2 separate regions of the Homo sapiens genome follow, and region 1 is linked to region 2. Evidence: fine-mapped expression QTL. Tissue or cell type: whole blood. Region 2 holds a variant in brackets; the other region holds the start of a gene. All regions are shown on one strand. Distances are from middle to middle.

Evidence for each region. PIP is the estimated chance that this variant, and not a neighbour inherited with it, causes the effect.
Region 1: PPP2R1A starts here. The variant in region 2 is the best candidate, but not a certain one, in a credible set for the expression of PPP2R1A in whole blood (TOPMed, PIP 0.65).

The regions. Positions count from the first base shown.
Region 1 is chr19:52,187,508-52,191,890 of GRCh38, forward strand. It overlaps PPP2R1A (protein phosphatase 2 scaffold subunit Aalpha), which reads left to right and starts at 2,545. Exons shown (of 15, transcript NM_014225.6): 1 at 2,545-2,667. The coding sequence starts at 2,590. RefSeq lists enhancers at 1,135-2,102, 1,751-1,880, 1,911-1,960, 1,971-2,190, 2,103-3,070 and 1 more.
Region 2 is chr19:52,211,773-52,216,155 of GRCh38, forward strand. It overlaps PPP2R1A (protein phosphatase 2 scaffold subunit Aalpha), which reads left to right. Exons shown (of 15, transcript NM_014225.6): 5 at 914-1,061; 6 at 1,183-1,338; 7 at 4,007-4,121; 8 at 4,232-4,302. Among named protein-coding and RNA genes, the nearest start is that of MIR6801, 8.1 kb to the right of the region's middle. The variant T/C (reference allele first, on the strand shown) is at 2,207.

The sequences.
Region 1 (4,383 bases), 24 kb before region 2:
TGAATTAATTTACTGAATACACTTTACTGTAGCTATTATCACTGGCATTGATCTGTATAGGTATTGATTTGTATAGGTATTGATCTGTATAGGTATTGATCTGTATAGGTATTGATCTGTATAGGTATTGATTTGTATAGGTATTTGTTAAATACTTATTAAAGTTTGCAGTTTTGTTTTGCATTTTGGAATCCATAATTTGTTTTTATTTTGTTTCTGAGATTTATAATGCCTCATTTAAGCCTCTGAAAATTCCTAGGCCCTAAGCACTTCAAAGGCCACCAGCCCAACATCCCAAGCAGCCTGACACCAAGACAGGCACGCATAGCTAAAAAGATCCCTAGCCTCAGAGACCTTGGGGCTGAGAGGAGTCCTGGGAATAGGGAGGGCTGGGACTGAAATATTCAACCCCATCCCCACTTTTATGAGCAGCAGTTTCCTAACTGCAGTGGGTAAGGGTATTTGAAATAGATGCTGGGCCGGGCACGGTGGCTCACACCTGTAATCCCAGCGCTCTGGGAAGTCCAAGTGGGCGGATCACCTGAGGTCAGGAGTTCGAGACCAAAGACAGCCAACACGGTGAAACCCCGTCTCTACTAAAAATACAAAATTAGCCGGGCGTGGTGGCTCATGCCTGTAAATTCCAGCTACTCCGGAGGCTGAGGCAGAAGAATCGCTTGAACCCGAGAGGTGGAGGTTGCAGTGAGCAGAGATTGAGCCACTGCACTTCAGCCGGGGCAACAAGAGCGAAACTCCGCCTCAAAAAAAAGGCCGGGTGCGGTGGCTCACACCTGTAATCCCAGCACTTTGGGAAGCCAAGGCAGGCAGATCACCCTGAGGTCAGGAGTTTGAGACCAGCCTGGCCCAAAGTGGTGAAACCCCGTCTCTACTAAAAATACAAAAATTAACCGGGCGTTGTGGTAGGCGCCTGTAATCCCAGGTACTCTGGAGGCTGAGACAGGATAATTGTTTGAACCCAGGAGACAGAGGCTGTAGTATGCCGAGATCGGGCCCCTGCATTCTAGCCTGGGCAACAGAGCGAGACTCCGTCTCAAAAAAAAAAAAAGAAAAAGAAAAAGAAGAAAAAAGAAATAGATGCTGTGGGTATTCAGATCTGTCAGAGTGCTAGCTCAGCCTAGCCCTTCAAGTAGCAGAATAAAGGAGGAAAGAGCATCCCAGGCCTTCCCATCCCCATTCAACTCCCTCAGTTAGAGTGGTCCTAAGATTGCGGTGGGGGGGTAGGGCTGTGTTGAAGAGGTTAAAAACAGAGATTAGTCAGATCCAATCCTGCTCCCACTCTATGGAGGAAACAAATTCGAATACATAGTCACAGCCCAGGCTCTGGGATTGAGAGACAGAGAGAGAGATTGGATTGGAGAGAGAGAGAGAGAGAGATGGGATTGGAGAGACAGAGAGATAGATGGGACTGGAGAGACAGAGAGAGGGGTTCTGTGGCTCTGGAAGCCTAGAGAACAGAGCCTGAAGACAGAGAGGAAAGGGAGTAAAGGGGAGGCATTTATGCAGAGATCTCAGAAGTGAATATGAAAGGCACCCCTAGCAGAACGCACAGCTTGGGCAAGGAGGCTTGCTGGCATGAAAACGCAAGAAGTGCTCAGGCAGCTGTAATTCTCCAGGACATCAGATAAAAGGTAAAAAACAGATGGGAGACGCGCCTAGACAGGGTATTGAATACCAGCCCGAGGGGCTTGGGTTTCATCCAAACAGCAAGGCAACTGAGCTCAACACAGTGAGACTCGGTCTCCACAAACATTTTTTTAAAAATTGGCCGGGCCTAGCGGCGCGCGCCGATAGTCCCAGCTATTTCTGCAGGCTGAGGCGAGAGGATCATTTGAGCTCGGGGAGGTCCAGGCGGCAGTGAGCCAAGATCCTGCCACTGCACTACAGTCTGGGCAACAGAGCGAGACCCTGTCTTTAAAAAAGTAAAAAAAAAAAAAAAAAAAAAAGAAAGAAAAAGAAAAAAGAGAGAAGGGCAAGTCGCTCCCTTCTCTGGGCCTTGGCATAAATCAAGCACAAATCAAAGTCTCACTCCCTCCTCCTGCCGCGCAACGGCGCGGAGAGCCAGCCAGCCAGCCAGCGGAACCACGGCCTGGTAACCCAAAACCTGCACACCCTCCAGCTCCCCACAGGACGTCACGTATTACCACCGACGCACGCGCAGAAGCCTTCCCGGGGACTCAAGAAAGGGCAGGCTTAGCCTCCTCCCCATGTCGCCCCTCATTGGCTAGAAACTACTGCTCGTCTCGGTCGTTGTTAGCAGCGACCAGGGCGGGTACAATCTTGGTCGCTAGGACACGGCTAACTTCCGCTTTCTTCCCCCTCTCCTAGGCTCAAACTAGTCAAATCTTGTTCACTCGACCAATGGCAAATCGGAAGTGGGCGGGACTTCACAAGTCCGGACCAAAGAAACGCGAGCTTAGCCCTGGGTAGCGCGGCCAATGGCCGTGGAGCAGCCCCTGTAAACTGGCTCGGGCGCCCCCACGCCCGCCCTTCCTTCTTCTCCCAGCATTGCCCCCCCCACGTTTCAGCACAGCGCTGGCCGCAGTCTGACAGGAAAGGGACGGAGCCAAGATGGCGGCGGCCGACGGCGACGACTCGCTGTACCCCATCGCGGTGCTCATAGACGAACTCCGCAATGAGGACGTTCAGGTCCGGAGGCTACGGGGGACTTGGGGAAGACGCGGAGGGGTACCTGGGGGCACGGGCGGCCCTCGCGGAGAAGACTCAGCGTTCGCTGGGAGTGGCGGAAGGGGGCGACGGCCAATCAGCGTGCGTCTCTTATCTCCCCGGTTGCCCGGACTCCTTGAGACGGCGCTCCCGATTGGGTGTCGGCCCAGTGGAGGGCGGGGGCCAGCGCTAGCCTCGAGGGTCCCGGGCCTGCCCTGTGCGCGCGGCGGTCCGCGGTCCTGGGAGGTTGTGGCCAGGGCTGGGGTCTGCGGACTGGGTCTGGGAGAGAGGAGGACTCCGTGATTGGCGGCGGCCTCTGAATGGCCTCTTGGGGATGTGGGGCGCGCATGACTTGCTCCAAGTAGGGGAGGGCCGCCGGGTGGGTCGGGACCTGGGAAGGTTTTTTTGTTTTCTGGGTTTCGACTGCTGGGCCAAGTGGGGACCGAGAGGCGAAGGCCTGCCATCCTAATTCCTGCTCTTCCTCCGCCTCTCATTTTGGTTTAGGTGTCCTAAGAGGACGGGGACGCAAAAACACCCCCCCACCAAAGGTGGGGACTAGCCAAGTTTAGGAGCGAATTAGGTTGTAGAAACCCGCCTCCCCATCTCCCCGGATCCTCCCATTGACCAGGATAGGGGTTGAGGGATTTGCTAAGCAGATGAACATTTATTTATTTCTTTTTTTTGAGACAGTCTCTGTGTCGCCCAGGCTGGGGCTGGGGAGCAGTGGCGCGATCTCGGCTCAGTGCAACCTCTGCATACCGGGTTCAAACCATCCTCGCCCCTCAGCTCCCTAATTAGCTGCGATTACCGGCGCGAGCCACCACGCCCGACTAATTTTTGTATTTTTAGCAGAGACGGGGTTTCACCATGTTGGCCAGGCTTGGTCGGGAACTCTTGACCTCAAGCGATCCACCCGCCTCGGCCTCCCAAAGTGTTGGAATTACAGGCGTGAGCCACCGCGCCCAGCCCGGATGAACATTCCTGGTTATGGGATGAGGTGACCCAAGGCTCTGAGCCGGGCTGGTGTGGGATTGAGAACAGTTAGAACTGCAAGTCCACCTCCCACCTGCTGTGTGACCTTGTGCAAATTACTTCACCGCTTTGGGTCTCTGTGTTCCATAAAATATGGGCTAATTGTAGTCCTGGTCTTGCTGGAGGGACTTGTGAGGGACTGAACGAATTATGACACAAATAAAAAGTAGAATGGTGTCAGGCCTGTTGTAAGGGCTCGATAAATATTAGCTGTAATTATTGGGAGTGGTGATTAAAGAGGTCCCATCCTCCCTTTAGGTCTGTTTTCCCATTTATAAAATTGGACAAGGTGCACTGGGTAACCTGCCAAACGTGGGTCTCGCCTCCTAGGTTCCTGGTATATCACTGTTTCTGGTGGCATACAGGTTGTGGTTGTATTCCCGGCCCTTCCACTTGTTACTGATTGACAAGGGCAAGTTAGTTAATCTCTCTAGGCCTGTTTCCTCTTCTCTTTAATGGGGTTAATTACCTAGTTCATAGGGCGGTTGTATGAATTCTTTTGTTCAGTAAATATATGCCATGTATGAGATATGATGCTGGGGATATAGTGGAGACACCAGTTGCTATACAGGATCCAGATGTGAAACAGGTCAGCAGAGCTGAATAGATGAGTGTTTGAAAAGTGATGGGAAGGAAACAAATAGGATGTAGTGGTAGCGAATCCAT
Region 2 (4,383 bases):
CATAAAGTGCTTAGAGCAAAATCTGGAACATAAAAACTTTCAGCAACTTACATCTGATGGTATCTCCAGCCTGTCCCAGGTCCAGTGCCTTTGGCAGATAAACCACCTCAGTTTTCAGCCTCCTGCTCGTCTACTTTGCAAACGATTGACCGTCAAGCCCGGGTTTGAGCCTGACTCACTCCAGAACTCTGGTTTATGGCTGTACACTTGCTTAGATACTTACACTGGCCCCCACCGCCTTTGATCGAAGCAATTGCTGCTGAAAAATAAAGCCTTTCTGTGGCTCTAGACCTGCCTCTTAGTTAAGCAGTTTTTTGTTTGTTTGTTTTTTGAGATAGGATCTCGCTCTGTCATCCAGGCTGAAGTGCACTGGTGCAGTCATAGCCCACTGCAGCCTCAACCTCCTGGGCTCAAGCATTCCTCCTGCCTTAGCCTCTCAAATAGCTGGGACCACAGGTGTGCAACACCACGCTGGGCTCATTTTTTATTTTTGGCAGAGATGGGGTCTCACTATGTTGCTCAGGCTGGTCTTGAACTCCTGGGCTCAAGCAATCCTCCTGCCTTGGTCTTCCAAAGTGTTCAGATTACAGGTATGAGCCACTGTGCCTGGCTCGTTGGTTAAGCAATTTTTATGGGAATGATGTAATCGTCAGCACTTAGCATTGACTAGATTTATTATGCGCAATCTGCGAAGTGTCTCACACACACTATTTTCATTTAAACCTCATGCGGACCTGTGGGGTAGGTACTGTTACTATCAGCTCCGTTTCATAGGGCTGGGAAGACAGAGAGGGGGTCATCACTTGCCCAAGGTCATTCAGCTAAAACCTGGACCCACACAACTGCAGAGTCTGTGCTTGCTCCTCTCTGCCATACTGCCTGCTGCCTCAGGATCCCCGTCCCCGACTCCCAGGTACTTCCGGAACCTGTGCTCAGATGACACCCCCATGGTGCGGCGGGCCGCAGCCTCCAAGCTGGGGGAGTTTGCCAAGGTGCTGGAGCTGGACAACGTCAAGAGTGAGATCATCCCCATGTTCTCCAACCTGGCCTCTGACGAGCAGGTGAGTTTTGCTTCCTGGCCCTCTGCTCTCCCGTCCTTCTGGTGGTTCCTGCCCATGAAAGAGAATCCCAGAGCTCAGCAAGGCCTCTGCTGCCCTCCCACTGTTCCTCTCCTCTCCCTAGGACTCGGTGCGGCTGCTGGCGGTGGAGGCGTGCGTGAACATCGCCCAGCTTCTGCCCCAGGAGGATCTGGAGGCCCTGGTGATGCCCACTCTGCGCCAGGCCGCTGAAGACAAGTCCTGGCGCGTCCGCTACATGGTGGCTGACAAGTTCACAGAGGTAGATGAGCGACCGTTGACATTGTCCCACTGGTGGGGACACTGACACTCTCAGAAGGGAAGCATATAGGAGCTGAGGTTTCCATTAGGCCGATGGAACCATTGGGCGTTTGAGCAATAAGATCTCTATGATCATCTAACTGCGTCTCGCTTCGTGTGCCAATCCTGGTTGATTGACATGGCATCTTAAAGTGCTGCCTTGAGAAAGATTCTGAGGCAAAGTTAAGGCTACGTGGAGGAAAGTGCCACAGGAGCAGAGAAGGGTAGCACATGTGGGGTGTTCCTGACATAATCAAGCTGTCCTTTCACAAAGGGGAAGACAGCCCAAAAAGGTGGGGTTTTTTGGTGTTTTTTTTTTTTTTTTTTTTTTTTTTTTTTAAGATGGAGTCTGTCGCCCAGGCTAGAGTCTTGTTACCCAGCTGGAGTGTGGTGGCGCAATCTTGGCTCACTGCAGCCTGTCCCTCCCGGGTGCAGGCATTTCTCCTGCCTCAGCCTCCTGAGGGACTGGGATTACAGATGCCCACCACGACACCCGGCTAGTTTTTGTATTTTTATTAGAGACGGGGTTTCACCATGTTGTTAGCCAGGCTAGTCTCGAACTCCTGACCTCAAGCGATCCGCCTGCCTTCATCTCCCAAAGTGCTGGGATTACAGGTGTTAGCCACCGCGCCCAGCCCCGGAAAGTTTAATTAACTGATCAGAGTGACACTACCAGCCAGGCAGAAAGGGGACAAGACTCCAGGTCTGTGACTCTCAGGACAGTGCTCCTTCCACAGGGATCCAGATTGCCTCATCCCACAAACATGTTTGCTGAGCACCAGCTATTTGCTGGGCCAGTGAATTCGGATCATTCCTGGCCTTCATGGAGC[T/C]AGGCAGTCTGAAGGGGAAGACTGACTTAGGGGAAATTTGATTATAAAGTGTCACAGGTGTGGGACAGACAGACAGATGTGGGGCCTTGGAAGCATTGAGGAGGGGAGGTGGTGTTACAGCTGGTTCTAGAAGATGAGTGGGTAAGAGCTAAGATAGGAACTTTGTTCCAGCCAGAGGACAAAGAACCCTGGGAGGTGAGAGCAAGTGCAAGCAGGAACATTCAGGCCTGATCTTGATGGCCCAGCCTGAGAGAAAGCAGGAGAGAGGGCAGGGTGGGATCGGAGAGAGGGCAGGGTGGGATCAGAGAGGCCTTGAGTGCCACTCCACCCTGAGGCGCCCTTTGCCTTTAATTATGCTGGTTCCCACTGGCATTTGCGGGAAGGACTCAGAGCTTCAGAATAGCGTACCATCACCACAGTTAGGGAAGGTTCTTCCCATCCTTGTCTCCTGAGCTGCATAAACTGTGTCACACTGGGTCTTAGAATAAAAATTCCATGAGGGCAGGAATTTTAGGCTGTTAAACCAGTTCTTGGCACATAGTAGACATTCAGTAAATATTTGCAAGATGAATAAAAGGCAGTATTTTCCCAAGATATCATGAGGTCCTTCAAGATTTTTACTTGTTCATTCCCGTCTTCATAATGAACTGTCCTGCTTCCTACCAGGTCTTCAGGAACCAGCTTTGCAGCAGGAGCCGTGCGTCTTTCCATGCCTGGTGCCATGAAACAGGCAGGGCCAAGCGTGCCTCCCTTTTTTTTTTTTTTTAAGACAGAGTCTCAGTCTTTTGCCCAGGCTGGAGTACGGTGGCACAAGCTCAGCTGACTGCAACCTCCACCTCCCAGACTCAAGTGATTCTCGTGCCTTAGCCTCCTGAGTAGCTGGAATTACAGGTGTGCACCACCACACCCAGCTAATTTTGTATTTTTAGTAGAGATGGGGTTTCACCATGTTGGCCAGGCTGGTCTCGAATTCCTGGCCTCAAGTGATCCACCCACCTCTGTCTCCCAAAGCGCTGGGATTACAGGTGTAAGCCACTACGCCCAGCCCTAGAGTGCCTTCCTTTCTGTCAATCTTTATTGTTTTATTTTTATTTTGAGACAGGGTCTCACACCATCACCCAGGCTGGAGTGCAGTGGCACAGTCACGGCTCACTGCAGCCTTGACCTCCTGGGCTCAGGTGATCCTCCCACTTCAGCCTTCTGAGTAGCTAGGACGATAGGTGCCTGCCCCCACACCCGGCTAATTGTTTTGTTTTTTTTGTAGAGTCAGGGTTTCACTGTGTTGCCCGGGCTGGTCTTGTTCTCTGGGACTCAAGCGATCTGTCCACCTCAGCTTCCCAAAGTGCTGGGATTATAGGCATGAGCCATCGCACTTGGCCTATTGTTTTATTTTCATTACAAAAGTAATTCGTGCTTCTGGTAACAGATCTTTAAGAAATACAGCCATATATAAATCAAAAAGTTGCAGTCACTATATCATTTGAATGTTTTTGAATCAGGTAACAGAAAACTTAACCTCAGTAGCCTGAATAATATGGAAATGTGTTATTTTTAATGCTGACAACACCGTGAGGTAGGTGCCCTCGCAGTCCTCATTTTTCTTTGGAAGCAAAAGAGGCTCAGCGAGGTGAAGAGCCTTGCCCCGGGGCCAGTCTTGGCACTCGAATTAGATTTTAGCACTGCTTCCAAGGCCCACGCTCTGTCCCCTAATTCTGGTGCCTTCACTTTGATTTTGGCTTCCTTAGCCCAGAGTAAACTGCCAGCCCCTCTCACTCTCCCCCTCCTCCTTCCTGTCTGCAGCTCCAGAAAGCAGTGGGGCCTGAGATCACCAAGACAGACCTGGTCCCTGCCTTCCAGAACCTGATGAAAGACTGTGAGGCCGAGGTGAGGGCCGCAGCCTCCCACAAGGTCAAAGGTTGGTGCTGGCAGCCGGAACACAGCAAGTGGGGTGGGTATCCAAGGGGCTGGAGGTGGAACTAGCACATCAGGTCTCACTTCCCTTTGCCTCCCTCTCCCTGCCCACAGAGTTCTGTGAAAACCTCTCAGCTGACTGTCGGGAGAATGTGATCATGTCCCAGATCTTGCCCTGCATCAAGGTAACAGAGAGTTTGATGGGAGGAACCAAGTGGATCCGAGCCTGCCAAAAAGAGGGGCTGGAGACAAGGCTTTGGGGATAG